Homo sapiens: one gene and its partners. The protein of the gene in region 4 purifies or fractionates together with the protein of the main gene of each other region. This does not show direct contact. Each region holds a gene or a part of one and is shown on either strand. Other genes may lie near its edges.

The links. The genes of interacting proteins can lie anywhere in the genome.
Region 1: the proteins of TSKS (region 4) and RGPD8 purify together in Homo sapiens (affinity purification with mass spectrometry; 2 studies listed by BioGRID and IntAct, with this or other methods). This does not show direct contact.
Region 2: the proteins of TSKS (region 4) and POC1A purify together in Homo sapiens (affinity purification with mass spectrometry; 2 studies listed by BioGRID and IntAct, with this or other methods). This does not show direct contact.
Region 3: the proteins of TSKS (region 4) and PGGT1B purify together in Homo sapiens (affinity purification with mass spectrometry; 2 studies listed by BioGRID and IntAct, with this or other methods). This does not show direct contact.

What each region holds. Positions count from the first base shown.
Region 1 is NC_000002.12:112,388,646-112,392,145, reverse strand, and holds part of RGPD8 (RANBP2-like and GRIP domain-containing protein 8), read left to right. Parts: intron 1-1,076; coding exon 1,077-1,171; intron 1,172-1,898; coding exon 1,899-3,500.
Region 2 is NC_000003.12:52,098,924-52,102,423, forward strand, and holds part of POC1A (POC1 centriolar protein homolog A), read right to left. Parts: intron 1-3,500.
Region 3 is NC_000005.10:115,214,378-115,217,877, forward strand, and holds part of PGGT1B (geranylgeranyl transferase type-1 subunit beta), read right to left. Parts: intron 2,597-3,500; coding exon 2,488-2,596; intron 1-2,487. UniProt on the Homo sapiens protein: Catalyzes the transfer of a geranyl-geranyl moiety from geranyl-geranyl pyrophosphate to a cysteine at the fourth position from the C-terminus of proteins having the C-terminal sequence Cys-aliphatic-aliphatic-X.
Region 4 is NC_000019.10:49,760,507-49,764,777, forward strand, and holds the start of TSKS (testis-specific serine kinase substrate), read right to left. Parts: upstream 2,801-4,271; 5' UTR 2,742-2,800; coding exon 2,572-2,741; intron 1,727-2,571; coding exon 1,498-1,726; intron 1-1,497. UniProt on the Homo sapiens protein: May play a role in testicular physiology, most probably in the process of spermatogenesis or spermatid development.

The DNA.
Region 1 (3,500 bases), on a different chromosome or scaffold from region 4:
TTAGATTACTTTTAGTAGATTTATTAGAGCCGCACAGTTTAGAGTCAGTAGTCAATTAAAGTCCCTACTTAAACTTCAGACTAAGATTTTTTTTTATTTAATATTTTATTTTTTCTTTTTGCTTTCATGCAGACAGACATCTTGCAAGACTTTAAGATTCTTGGGCCATTTCTGTCAGGTTGTTCTGTGTTCTGTGCCTGCTTCCTCCCCATAGTAATTTCAAAATAGCTATCCTCACCTCTGTAAGGTTTCCGAAATCAAACTTGGGCTTCTGGCTAGCCTTTTCTAGGTCTTGATTTTTCAGTGCTTTCCAGAGGCAATTGTTTGGAACCTCTTGGCACAGTTTCTGTTTCTTCTTCCATGTACAGGCATAAAAGGTCTTTTGGTTGTTTTCTGGTAAAACTATCATAAAACAGTTCAAGCAAATGACTATTGGTAGTTTTGTCATTAACATGGGTGCCTTCTAGTCATTTTGTTTCCTGGCAAAACAGACCAAACAGAGGGAGCAGACAGTTTGTACATCTGTATGAGTGTTGATGTGCTTTTTATTTTAAGCCAGGGAACACATTTTATGTTATTTATGACATCCTTTCCATGAATTTGTCAGGTGATTTTTGAGCTGAACATTCTCAGTAATAGCTTTAGTTTACAAAATACAACCTAGTCTTTCTGCAGATTTTCTAGGCCCACTTCAAATGCATTGACTATCAGATGGCATCTTGGTTCCTTACGTCCTTTCTGTGACTGAATGTCCATAATTCCACATCATACTGATCTTTCTTAGAAAAGGCAACAGTTACTATCTTCTTTATTCCTTTTTTAATGCTTGCGAGGTAGTTCTTGTTGATCACAGCGATGCTATTCTCTCATTCTTCATGTCATATTTAGCAATTTTTTTCTAGTTTGTCATTTGATAATCTTGATTGGTGTATTTTGATGTACAGAAATTTAAAATTTATGTAGTTAAATCTTTCTTTAATTTCTATTGCTTTTGTATTTATAGCTCTTGCCTAGATAGTCTTAACTGTAGTATAGACTTTAACAGTGTTTTCTTTCTTTTCTTTTTTTTTTTTCAGTTGCAACTACTGGCCCTTCAGTATATTATAGTCAGTCACCAGCATATAATTCCCAGTATCTTCTCAGACCAGCAGCTAATGTTACTCCCACAAAGGTAACAAAGGAATAATTTATACATTTATAATTATTTTCTTTTTAAATTGTTTAGGGTTCCTTCAAATAAATTCAAGAGAGCAGTTCACTATTAAAACTTTTATGTCCCTTAAAATGTAGATATTTTAAATTTATCTCCAAATACAGAAATTATCCTTCTCAGTCACCTTATTTTTGTGTTAATAAGTGTGAATATTTAGAATATTTTAAAAATGGGAGTGGTGGTGGTGGATCCTTCATCGTTCTGTTTTAACAGAAATAGAACTGTAATGCCCTTGCTGACCCACTATGTGGTAAGTACTTTCAGGCCTGATACAGCTATATATATAACAATTGATTGAAGACTCAATATTACAGTGGTAGTTGAATGTGACAGCTTTGAGGACAGAGTGTTGGGGTGCATTTAGACCCTTGCTCTTCTGCTTATTTTGACCACAGGCAAGTTTCTTAACCTCTCAGTGCATCAGTTGCCTTATATGTAAAATGAGGATAATAATAATACCTTAATTCATAGGGTTTTTGAGGATATTAAAATGAGATAATAATGTAAAGTGCTTAGAACAGTGCCCAGCTGGCACATTAATGAATGCTCAATAAATGTTATCATCATCATCATCATCATTATTGTTAACATCATTTGATAAATTGTTTAGGAATGAAGAAGGTATTTATTTCATGACTATTTTGGGCATGTGGATCAAGAAAATTCACCTTCATTTATGTTTCAGGGTTCTTCTAATACAGAATTTAAGTCAACCAAAGAAGGATTTTCCATCCCTGTGTCTGCTGATGGATTTAAATTTGGCATTTCGGAACCAGGAAATCAAGAAAAGAAAAGGGAAAAGCCTCTTGAAAATGATACTGGCTTACAGGCTCAGGATATTAGGGGCCGGAAGAAGGGCCGTGGTGTGATTTTTGGCCAAACAAGTAGCACTTTTACATTTGCAGATGTTGCAAAATCAACTTCAGGAGAAGGATTTCAGTTTGGCAAAAAAGACCTCAATTTCAAGGGATTTTCAGGTGCTGGAGAAAAATTATTCTCATCACGATACGGTAAAATGGCCAATAAAGCAAACACTTCCGGTGACTTTGAGAAAGATGATGATGCCTATAAGACTGAGGACAGCGATGACATCCATTTTGAACCAGTAGTTCAAATGCCTGAAAAAGTAGAACTTGTAACAGGAGAAGAAGGTGAAAAAGTTCTGTATTCACAGGGGGTAAAACTATTTAGATTTGATGCTGAGGTAAGGCAGTGGAAAGAAAGGGGCTTGGGGAACTTAAAAATTCTCAAAAACGAGGTCAATGGCAAACTAAGAATGCTGATGCGAAGAGAACAAGTACTAAAAGTGTGTGCTAATCATTGGATAACGACTACAATGAACCTGAAGCCCCTCTCTGGATCAGATAGAGCATGGATGTGGTCAGCCAGTGATTTCTCTGATGGTGATGCCAAACTAGAGCGGTTGGCAGCAAAATTTAAAACACCAGAGCTGGCTGAAGAATTCAAGCAGAAATTTGAGGAATGCCAGCGGCTTCTGTTAGACATACCACTTCAAACTCCCCATAAACTTGTAGATACTGGCAGAGCTGCCAAGTTAATACAGAGAGCTGAAGAAATGAAGAGTGGACTGAAAGATTTCAAAACATTTTTGACAAATGATCAAACAAAAGTCACTGAGGAAGAAAATAAGGGTTCAGGTACAGGTGTGGCCGGTGCCTCAGACACAACAATAAAACCCAATGCTGAAAACACTGGGCCCACATTAGAATGGGATAACTATGACTTAAGGGAAGATGCTTTGGATGATAGTGTCAGTAGTAGCTCAGTACATGCTTCTCCATTGGCAAGTAGCCCTGTGAGAAAAAATCTTTTCCGCTTTGATGAGTCAACAACAGGATCTAACTTCAGTTTTAAATCTGCTTTGAGTCTATCTAAGTCTCCTGCCAAGTTGAATCAGAGTGGGACTTCAGTTGGCACTGATGAAGAATCTGTTGTTACTCAAGAAGAAGAGAGAGATGGACAGTACTTTGAACCTGTTGTTCCTTTACCTGATCTAGTTGAAGTATCCAGTGGTGAGGAAAATGAACAAGTTGTTTTTAGTCACAGGGCAGAAATCTACAGATATGATAAAGATGTTGGTCAATGGAAAGAAAGGGGCATTGGTGATATAAAGATTTTACAGAATTATGATAATAAGCAAGTTCGTATAGTGATGAGAAGGGACCAAGTATTAAAACTTTGTGCCAATCACAGAATAACTCCAGACATGAGTTTGCAAAATATGAAAGGGACAGAAAGAGTATGGGTGTGGACTGCATGTGATTTT
Region 2 (3,500 bases), on a different chromosome or scaffold from region 4:
GTTAAGTAACTTGTTCTAAGTTACCCAGCAAATAACAGAATTGGGATCTGAACCCAAAGTGCAGGCTCTTCCCGGACATGAGACAGCCTCTGGCAGGTGACATTGACTGCAGCTGGGCTTCCATGTGCACAGTTCCTCTCCAACGTCCCCATGGAGGCCTCTGAATCCTAGGTCTAATGCTTTTTGCGTCACTTCCCCAACCCAGCTGCCCTGGAATGATTGCCCAGCACAGAGCTGAACTCAGAGCAGGCCCTCCACAAACACTCAACACCTCAAAGAGCAGGGCCCACCGAGGTAAAATTCCTGTGTAATGAATCCTCCCCAATGTCTGCACTGCAGCAAAGGGCCAGCAGCCCCACCCCTCACAGCTCTGTAGCCACTCACCTGCATGCCAGCACTCTGGAGCTGTGGCATTTCCCTGAGAGCTGGGCAAATAAGCAAGAAAGCAGAGATAAGAAAATGACACACAAGAGTGGGAAGAGACAGTCGTACCAGAGCCATGAGTAATGACAGTGGCAGAATAACCCAAGCAGCATTTAAATGCAAAAGTCACATCAGCATTTTGTCTGTTCAACATCAAAGAGTCCTAGGGGTTTTGCCTGGTGGTTCTCAGTTAAGTATAACATGAATAAAATAACACAAAGAGGCCAGACACGGTGACTTACACCTGTAACCCAACCACTTTGGGAGGCCAAGGCAGGTGGATCACTTGAGGACAGGAGTTCAAGACAAGCCTGGCCAATATGGTGAAACCCTATCTCTACTAAAAATACAAAAATCAGCCAGGCATGGTGGTAGGCACCTGTAATCCCAGCTACTCGGGAGGCTGAGGCAGGAGAATCACTTGAACCCAGGAGGTGGAGGTTGCAATGAGCTGAGATCACACCACTGCACTCCAGCCTGGGCAACAGAGCAAGACTCCGTCTCAAAAGAAAAAGTAATGCTCACTAAAATAACAACAAAGATTAATCCACACATATACTCGTATAGGCCTACACCAATTCAACAACATTTCACTTTTGCCAAATATAAACATCTTAATACCAAAACAAAAAAAGGTGACTCTCAAGAGATGGCTCTAACTTTGGGAAATATCACTTGGGGTCTGCAGGTGTCTCCTCTCATGCCACCCTGGGGTGGGACTCTGGCCTCTCACAGTTGGTTAATGTGTTGCCCACCTCAGTTCCTGTTTCCTCTGCTGCCTGCTTTTCATACACCACCAGGAGCTCATCACTTCACACACAGTAGGAATTGCCTAAATGTCTGTGGCTGATACTCAGCTACCCAGACACATGAGGAACCAAACCATAACATTTCATTAAAAACAAAAGAAACAGCTTGTAGATCTTCCTTGTGACAAGAAATCAACCCATCTGGAGTTGACTTCTTGAGAGGTCTCTGAATTGACCGTGATCTCCCTCTTCCATCAAGATACAAGTATGGATAAGGAGCTGCTGCCTAGGATATATAAAGCTGGGGAAAGTGTTAATTCCTTCCTAACAAGAAAAAGACTGACAATCTAAAAGAATCATAACTTCTCTTAAATCAGAGAGCTGAAGTCACAGAGCAACCAGTAGCCTGAAATCTAAGGAAAGACAGACACTTCCAAGGAAAATAGAAAGTGAGCATCAGCTGTGGGTCACCTATGGCAAAGCATGAGGAGAAGAGACGCCAAATACCATACGAGTGGGTAAGTTACAGTTTTAACAAACTGCTGGAGACCAAGCGCAGACTAGGGTAAGAGTGCAGAACCCCCAGGTGCCACAGACACAAGTAGAGCTTGCACCCATGCACAGGTTCTCCTCCACAGACCTCCACTGGGCTTTCATGACAAAAAAAAATGGGGGCAGAACAGTAGATGGAAGAAAACCGTTCTTGGAGGTGCAGGCCTAGGAGAGGAGAGTGAGTAAGGAAAGGTATGAAGCCCTGCCAGGACCTCTCCCCTGTAGAAGAGCATCCTGAAACTACTAGGGAAAAGCAAATATAAAAACACCTCTTCCCTTGAGGGAGAGGCAGGAAACTATCCTGAGCTGAGATTATCAAGGTCTCCTTTGAATGAGGAAGGAGCAGGACCGCTAAGAATGTCTCACTTTTGAGACCCAGGGAGACAGAGTCTGCTTAAGACTGAAGCTGGGTCAAGACAACAGGGCCCACCCCAACCCTCAGCAAAAAAAAAAAAAAAAAAAATATCAAGCACCAAGCAATAAGCAACAGCAGCCTATCTAGGGAGGAGGGCCAAGAACATGGAAAAAAGCATGCCCCTCTGAGGGGCATGCCCACAGGGCTGGCTGAAAGGTGAGAGTGAGGAAAATGACTGAGAAAATCCTCCATCAACCAGACCTCATCCTAGGTACGTTAGGTAACACTAAACTAAGCTCAACTCCTGATAAGACTATTTACCTCAGTCTTTACTGTCCTAAGCATGATGCCTGGCATTTAATAAAACATTATGAGACACAAAAAGGCAGGGAGAAAAAAAAACCCCACTGTCAAGAGACAAAGCAGTCAGTAGAAGCAGACTCAGATGACCTAGATGTTGAAACTATGAGATACAAAATTTAAAATAACTATGATTAATATGGTAAAGGCTCTACTGAATAACACACATGATCAAATGGAGAATTTCAGCAGAAAGGCAGAAATTATAAGAAAGAGTCAAATGGAAACAACAGAAATAAGAAACCCAGTAACAGAGAAGTATGGCTATAATGGGCTCAATGGGAAAATAAATTAGTGATCTTAAAGATAGATCAATTCCTCAAACTGAAACACAGAGGGATAAAACAGAACAGAGCTTCCATAAGCTACAAGACAATACTGTCTCTAACACATGGACAATTGGAATCCTAGAAGGAGAAGAGAGAGAAATTAGATATTTCTTATAATACAAATTTGCTGGTAAAAAATTGTCAGCTTTGGTTTTTCTGGAGGGGAAAAAAAGGTCTTATTTCCCCATCATTGCTAAAATATTTTTGCTAAGTACAGAACTTTGGGTTGGCAGTTTTTCTTTCAAACTTTAAAGATGTTACTCTTTCAGTTTGTATAGTTTCACGAGAATTCTTCATAATTCTTACATTTGATCCACATATATATGTCTTTTTTTCTCTGGCTACCTTCAAGATTTCTTTCTTAATCCTTGGTTTTCAGAAGTTTGAATATAACTCATCTAGGATTTTGTTTTGTTTTGTTTTTCTCCAGCTTGTTTGCTGTTTCTCTGAGCTTCTTGGAACTATGGTTTGATGCCTTTCATTATTTTTTGAAAATTCTTGGCCATTATCTTTTCAATAGCACCAAAACAACATGAAGTATATATTATTAATAGTTTCCTAGGGCTGCTGTAACAAATTGTCACATTTGATGGCGTAAAACAATCTAAATTAATTCTCTCACAGTTCTGGAAGTCTGAATCAAGGCAGGGCCACATTTCCTCTGGAGGCACTAAGGGAGAATGCTGCCTTCCCTCTTTCAGCTTCTGGTGGCTCCATAATTCCTTTGCTTAT
Region 3 (3,500 bases), on a different chromosome or scaffold from region 4:
AGCACTTTAGATGTTGAAATATATATTTACTCCACAATAAAAGGTTATTCTTTTGAAGTTTCTTTCATAAATGTATATAAAATCCCTTTGTATCAAATTTGCCACTAAATTCACTAGAATGAAGAATAAGCTTAATTTTAAAGAATCTTGTTAAAATGATTAAAGATTCTGGGACCAGATCTTTACACATAAATTCAATTTAGCAAAGCCCTTCTATGCTTTCTATTGCATACTCTGAAAACATTGTAATGTATCTGTAAAAAGTAAGTAGTACATCCAAATATTTACACAAATGTTAAAGTTAGCAACTGAACTCTCCGGAAAAAGCCTCAAGAACTTTCTTTTAAAAAAGCTATTGGAAACACTGAATGTATTTCAAGTATGTTTATACAAGAAATGTTTCCTAAGAGACTGTCATTTCCCTACTCCCATTATTTGTTAAAACAGTACCCTGCACTGGTTTAAAAAATGGAATGAAGACCAAAATAATTCTCAGTTTTGAGGCACTAGAGATATCAAAAATTTCAAGATATTATTTTGCTTGAGAAATTAACTTCTGAAGACACACTTTGGCTTACGACTTTGAAAGCAATGTACACTTTCTCTAAGAAGACATGTTTTACTACTGATTGATTGATTGAGACAGAGTCTCGCTCTGTCGCCCAGGCTGGAGTGCAATGGTGAGATCTTGGCTCACTGCAACCTCCACCTCCTGGGTTCAAGCAATTCTCCTGCCTCAGCCTCCTGAGTAGCTGGGACTACAGGTGTGCACCACCATGCCTGGCTATTTTTGTATTTTTGGTAGAGACGGGGTCTCGCCATATTGACCAGGCTGGTCTTCAACTCCTGACTTCAAGTGATTCACCAGCATCAGCCTCCCAAAGCTGGGATTACAGGCGTGAGCCACTGCACCCGGCCATTTATTTTATTTTATTTTTTGAGATGTACTCTTGCTCTGTTGCCCAGGCTGGAGTGCAGTGGTGTGACCTTGGCTCACTGCAACCTCTGCCTCCCAGGTTCAGGCAATTCTTCTGCCCCAGCCTCCCAAGTAGTTGGGATTACAGGCACCCACCACCACGCCTGGCTAATTATTGTATTTTTAGTAGAGGCAATGTTTCACCATGTGGCCAGGCTAGTCTCAAACTCCTTGCCTCAAGTGATCCGCCCACCTCAGCCTCCCAAACTGTTGGGATTACAGGCGTGAGCCAAAACTCCTGGCCTAGGAAGCATGTTTTATATGAAAATATAGGCAAGTAGGGGTGTAAGGAAATATTCCTGCTCATTTCAAATACAAAAATTGATTTCATGAGCTCCTTATTTATATTCTGATTCAATCACACATTCCAACCACAGCAGTTCTGTGATGGAAGATGAGTTGATGAGGCACTTTCCAGGCTGATAATAAAAACCACGACTCTATTGCAATACTGGCAAAAACAATCATTCCTTGTGTCTAGTTTCATATTTGTAACTAATTCTTTAACTACTTGCTTATCAAAAGTGTCAGTGTTTGAAATTATTTCAAAACACACTTAAATGGATTTTTATAGGGAAGCTGTATATAGACTCATTTTGCTGGAGGTGAAAACATATGTCGGGTGAGGTGTAGGCTGCAGAATGATGCTAGAGGTGGGAGAGGAGCCAAATTTTGGAAGGGCCTTGAGTGCCATGCCATTTATATTGTCTGAATCTGTTGAAATTTGGAGAACAAGAGTATGGGAAGTGAGAAACACATATATTCAGGATTTGAAATATTTTATTTAATGACTTTTTTTTTTGAGACAAAGAGTCTCGCTCTGTCACACAGGCTGGAGGGCAGTGGTGCAATCTCGGCTCACTGGAACCTCTGCTTCCTGGGTTTAAGTGACTCTCCTGCCTCAGACTCCCGCATAGCTGGGACTACAGGCACGCATCACCACACCTGGCTGATTTTTGTATTTTTAGTAGAGTCGGGGTTTCAACACGTTGGCCAGGCTGGTCTTGAACTCCTGACCTCAAGTGATCCACCTGCCTTGACCTCCCAAAGTGTTGGGGTTACAGGCATGAGCCACTGTGCCCGGCCTATTTAATGACTTCTGAAAAGAGTAAGAACTGATTCCCTTCAGGATTGGGAGTAATTTATTATACTTAGTTCAAGTCATGACTAATAATCCTAACGGCTTTGGATGGCCTAAATAATTCTCTTCTTTGGAAAGGACCCATTCAGACCATCTACATTATTGCTGCAAATGAAATAAAACATTACTAAGTAAAATATTTGGGAAAAAATGCACACTATTCCCATGCATCTTGATAATAAACTCTTTCATTTATACTCTCTAATACCCTAAATTTATCCTAAGCTTACACAATATACCTTTTAAAAAATATTATTTAATGTAACTTTGCAACTGGATATATTTTCTATCATATGCCTTTTCTGATAAAGATGCTTGAAGATCTATTCAGGAAATAAAGGTTGTTCTGATTCACAAAGAAAATAATTACCTGGATGACTGTCTGGCCACTTGGCAAATCCCCCTACAAGGCGATCTTGAGTTGATAAGATGTAATTTCTATTTTTCTCAAAGTTAGTGTATTGGAAAATTTTTAGAAGCTGAAATGACATGACAAATAAAAATTTACTGACATAAAACTCATATCAACCTTTGGCTCAAATTTCAGATACGTGTCATTTAGATATGCTTTTCTTTAGCTAAGGTGCTCAGACCAAGTCTCTGGGGCCTTGAGCACTTTTGAAATGAGTAAATCACATTAACTTTTTAATTTTCTTATCAAATCTACTCTCCTTTTCTCGACTCTCTATTTCCTTCTTCTGAACCAGGCCAACTGAACCCTTTAAATCACATTAAGCTAAATTCAAAAGACAACTCGAATCCACTCAACATAATCAGTCATTTTAAAAAGTACAATTTTATCTACCCATATTTTAACTCTTATGATAAGCTCTTGAGCTATTAGTTATAAACTAGTAGTAACTGGAATTAAAAATATTTTTTAAAAAAAGAGCAAACAAAAATTACTAACCAGATGCTACAGACAGTTTTGAAAATAGTAAAAAAGTATAGCTCTTTAATTAGGAAAGAAAAAGGTAAGACAAAAATGATTGCAACATAAAAAACTATATAGTTTTTAATGATTTAGGACATGTACTTGGCTTTTCTCTCAAGACCCCATAAAAGTAAAATACAAATAAATAAATAATACTGTGAAGTTCAAGATGAGGTGCACAGTAGGTAAGAGGGTTCAAGACATTTCTGATGATACAAAGCAATTTAATATATGTTAATGAACCAGAGAGAGCCACAGCTTTTAGTGACTAATGAAGAAGCATTATTTCTCAAAAAGAAAAGCTAAACTCATAAGAAAGTTATGGTACAAACAGGAAACAAATTTATTCATTTACATTGATTTAATTAATAAAATATAAGGAAAAAGACTTTTTTGAATCTTGATGTTAGGAATATTTTCCATCAGTGGCACACTGGTCATTACATAAA
Region 4 (4,271 bases):
TTGTATTTTTAGTAGAGACGGGGTTTCACCATATTGGCCAGACTGGTCTCGAACTCCTGACCTCATGATCCACCCGCCTCGGCCTCCCAAAGTGCTGAGATTATAGGTCACTGCGCCTGGCCTACAAAAAATTTTTTTTTAATCAGCCAGGTGTGTGCCTGTGGTCCCAGCTACTCAGAAGGCTGAGATGGGAGGATCCTTTGAACCCAGGAGTTCGAGGCTGCAGTGAGTTGTGATTGTGCCACTGCACTCCAGCCTGGGAGACAGAGCAAGACCCTGCCTTAAAAATAAATAAACAAAAGCTGGGCGTGGTGGCTCACGCCTGTAATCTCAGCACTTTGGGAGGCCGAGGTGGGCAGATCACCTGAGGTCCGGAGTTCGAGACCAGCCTGACCAACATGGAGAAACCCTGTTTCTACTAAAAATACAAAATTAGCTGGGTGTGGTGGCACATGCCTGTAGTCCCAGCTACTCGGGAGGCTGAGGCAGGAGAATGGCTTGAACCCGGCCGGGAAGCAGAGGTTGCTGTGAGCCAAGATCACGCCATTGCACTCCAGCCTGGGCAACAAGAGCGAAACTCTGTCTCAATAAATAAATAAATAAATAAAATTTAAAAATAAAGGAACGAATGTATGCATCTCCGTTTTACAGATGAGGAAACCAGGGCTCCCTGAACATAGAAAGTGCTAGTGAATCTTATCAGCATCATTAAGATCATGGCTATTGTTAATGTGGTTCTCAGTATCTGGTAGAGCCTGTTTTAGGCCTGGCCCAGGGGAAGCCAGGTGGGGGGTGAGGATCAGAGGTGCAGTGAGTTAAAGGACCCATTTGTAACCCTCTATACTTTTGCCAGAAATTCCCTAAGTCCCCCTAAATCTTGCTCATCTCTCAGTTTTGCCCCAGATTCTTAGCTGACTCCCCTCAGAGAACTCCTACTCACTCACTAAGGTCCAGTTGCAAGACATCCTCCTCCAGGAAGCTTTCCCTGGTACCCCCCAGCCTGGCTTGAGGGGCCTTTCTCTGGGATCTCCTCCGTTAGGGAATTTCTCACCCTAGTCTGTGTCTTTTGCCCCCACCAGACTGGGAGCTCCCCAAGCACAGGGATCTGGCCTGTTTCCTGAGCCCAGCCTCACTGGGGACATTTGGGAGTGACTGTGTGAACTGAAGACCACCCAGGCCAGGCACGGGGGCTCTCGCCTGTAATCCCAGCACTGTGGGAGGCCGAGGTGGGAGGATCACTTGAGCCCAGGAGTTTGAGACCATCTTGGGCAACACAGTGAGACTGTCTCTAAAGGAAGAAAAAAAAAAGACCAACTCCCAGATTCATGGCTGGCTGTCAGAGAAGGAGGAGGCAGTTCCCAGTTAGTTCCTCTGGGTCTCGAATGACCAGAACATTCTAACTCCAAGTCAAAAACACCCCACCCCCGTCCTAAGTATTTGCTACCACCTTGTGGAGGACCTCGGTCCTCCCCAGCGGGTGGTGTGGAGGGCCCTCACCAGGATTTCCGTGATGTCTGCGTCATCCGGATCCCAGGGTAGGGTAGGGGAGGCAGGGGGCCCAGCCAGTGTGAGTTGGCCGCTGAGGTCTTCCACTGTGGAGTCTGTCCCCGTGGAGTCAGTGGGCTCCATGGCGGCCAGGTTGAGCAGTGACACGTTGGTGCAGGCCGAGGACCGTTTGAGGTTCAGGCACCAGTGCATGGGCTGATGGGACATCTGGGGCTCCACCCTGCAGAGAAGAAACAGGCAGAAAAGTGGAGAAGCAGCCCCAGGGTGTCTGGGCCCTCCTGCCTTCCTTTCTCCATACCTCACCCCCTGTGACTCCACCCTCACTGTATATAAGTTTCTCCCTTCTCTGTCCCCGCTGCCTACTTTATTCTCCTTCCCTGTGCTGCCTACTTTCTTTCTTTTTTCTTTCTTTCTTTTTTTTTTTTTTTTGAGACAGAGTCTCACTCTGTTGCCCAGGCTGGAGTGCAGTGGCGCGATCTCAGCTCACTGCAACCTCCGACTGCGGGTCCCAGTTCAAGCAATTCTCCTGCCTCAGCCTCCTGAGTAGCTGGGGTTATAGGCATGTGCCATCACGCCCAGCTAATTTTAGTATTTTTAGTAGAGATGGCTTTTCACCATGTTGGCCAAGCTGGTTTTGAACTCCTGACCTCATGATCCACCTGCCTCGGCCTCCCAAAGTGCTGGGATTACAGGCGTGAGCCACCGTGCCCGACCACCACTGTCTACTTTCTTCTTCTCCTTCCCCGCTGCCTACTTTCTCCTCCCTTCTCTGCCACCTACTTTCTTCTTCATTCACTAGCCTCCCTTCTCCTTCTTCCCTCCCCACTGGCTTTTTCCTCTCTCCATCCATCCCCATTACCTTCTTCCTCCCTCCATCCATCCCCATTACCTTCTTCCTCTCTACCTCCCTGTGACTTGATGTCTCTTCACTGCTGCCCTCTTTCCTGCCCCCGACCTGCTGGCTTTTCCCCCTCCCCTTCCTCTAGCACCCACAGTCGGACTCCTGCTCTGTTGGAGGTAGTGCTGGGCATTAGAACCATCCCTGACAGTGTGCAACAAACCCACCCGTGGAACGACACGGCCTTCTTTTTCTTCGGGATCCCCTTGGCCCGGCTGGTCACCCTCCGGGGAGCCTCTGGGACTAGCTGGGAGCAGCTCTCCACCCCCGTGGGGGTGTCCCCGGCCTCATGGATCTCTTTGGACTGCCAGATCGTCTTCACCACCACGCTCGCCATGGTGTGGGGGTCTGGCTCCCAGGGAGGGGCTCCTTCCTCTGAGACTTCCTACCTACTGTGACCACAGACCCTCAGGATCCACTGTCCCCTCAGCCTGCCTCACAAAGGACCCAACCACTGGGCCCCAGTGAGTGGGGGGCACAGGGTAGGGAGAGATGCTGGCCCAGGTCATTCCCCTAGGGTTCTCAGTGGACTCCTCCTGTTCAGGATTCTAGTTACATGCCCAATGTGCCCCCCGTCTTCAGAGCTCCAGTGGATGGATTCATGCTAGCCTGTAACTTAACAATGGGTCGGCCCACGGATTCTTGGGAGAGGTCCAACTTCCCTCTCCCTGAGACTAAGCGTGGGGTCACACAGCCCTGTGCACTTGTTCTTGATTCTTCATGTAGCTTCCTGGATTTGACAATTGGCTGGGGTTTGAGAGACTGTGGTCGAAGAGGGCTGAGATCCAGACCCTGACCTGGAGGGTCTCATATTCTATGGGGCGTCGGGGTCGGGGGAAAGGCAATATACAGGTAGATCAACAAAAGAAAGCTAGGTGCGGTGGGCCTCGGGGTCAGGGTAGAAGGTGAGGGAGGAGAGGAAGGTAGAGAGTTGGGGCAGGACAGAGGGTGGTATCCCCCTCCCCCGTTTATTTATTTATTATTTTCTTTAATACTTTTTATTTTTTTTGAGACAGAGTCTCTCTCTGTCATGGAGGCTGGAGTTCAGTGGCGCGATCTCAGCTCATTGCAACCTCCACCTCCCGGGGTTCAACCGATTCTCCTGCCTCAGCCTCCCCAGTAGCTGGGACTACAGGCGCTGGCCACAATGTCCGGCTAATTTTTGTATTTTTAGTAGAGACGGGTTTCACCATGTTGGCCAAGTTGGTCTCAAACTCCCGACCTCAAATGGTCCACCCGCCTTAGCCTCCCAAAGTGTGGGATTACAGACATGAGCCACCATGCTCCGCTATAATTTTTTTTTTTTTTTTTTAGATGGAGTCTCGCTCTGACACCCAGGCTGGAGTGCAGTGGCGTGATCTTGGCTCATTGCAACCTCTACCTCCCAGTTTCAAGCGATTCTCCTGCCTCAGCCTCCTGAGTAGCTGGGACTACAGGTACCTGCCACCACACCCATCTAATTTTTTTTTTGTATTTTTAGTAGAGACAGGGTTTCACTGTGTTGGCTAGGCTAGTCTCCAACTCCTGACCTCGTGATCTGCCCACTTCAGCCTCCCAAAGCATTGGAATTACAGGTGTGAGCCACTGCGCCCCGCCCGCCCAAAGTATTTAAAAAATATATGGAACATGTCACAAATTTGCATGTGGTCTTTGCGCAGGGCCCATGCTAATCTTCTCTGTATCGTTCCAATGTTAATACATGTGCTGTCGAAGCGAGCACTGCCCTGCTATTTAGGGACAGACTTTTCCTGTTCTCTTCACACTTCTCAAAAAGACTAGTTCAAACATCACTGCTAATAGACATTTTAAATGCTGTTATCCCCAGGGAGAAAGTACTTCTTCCTGGTCATGAATGGACTCCAGTTCT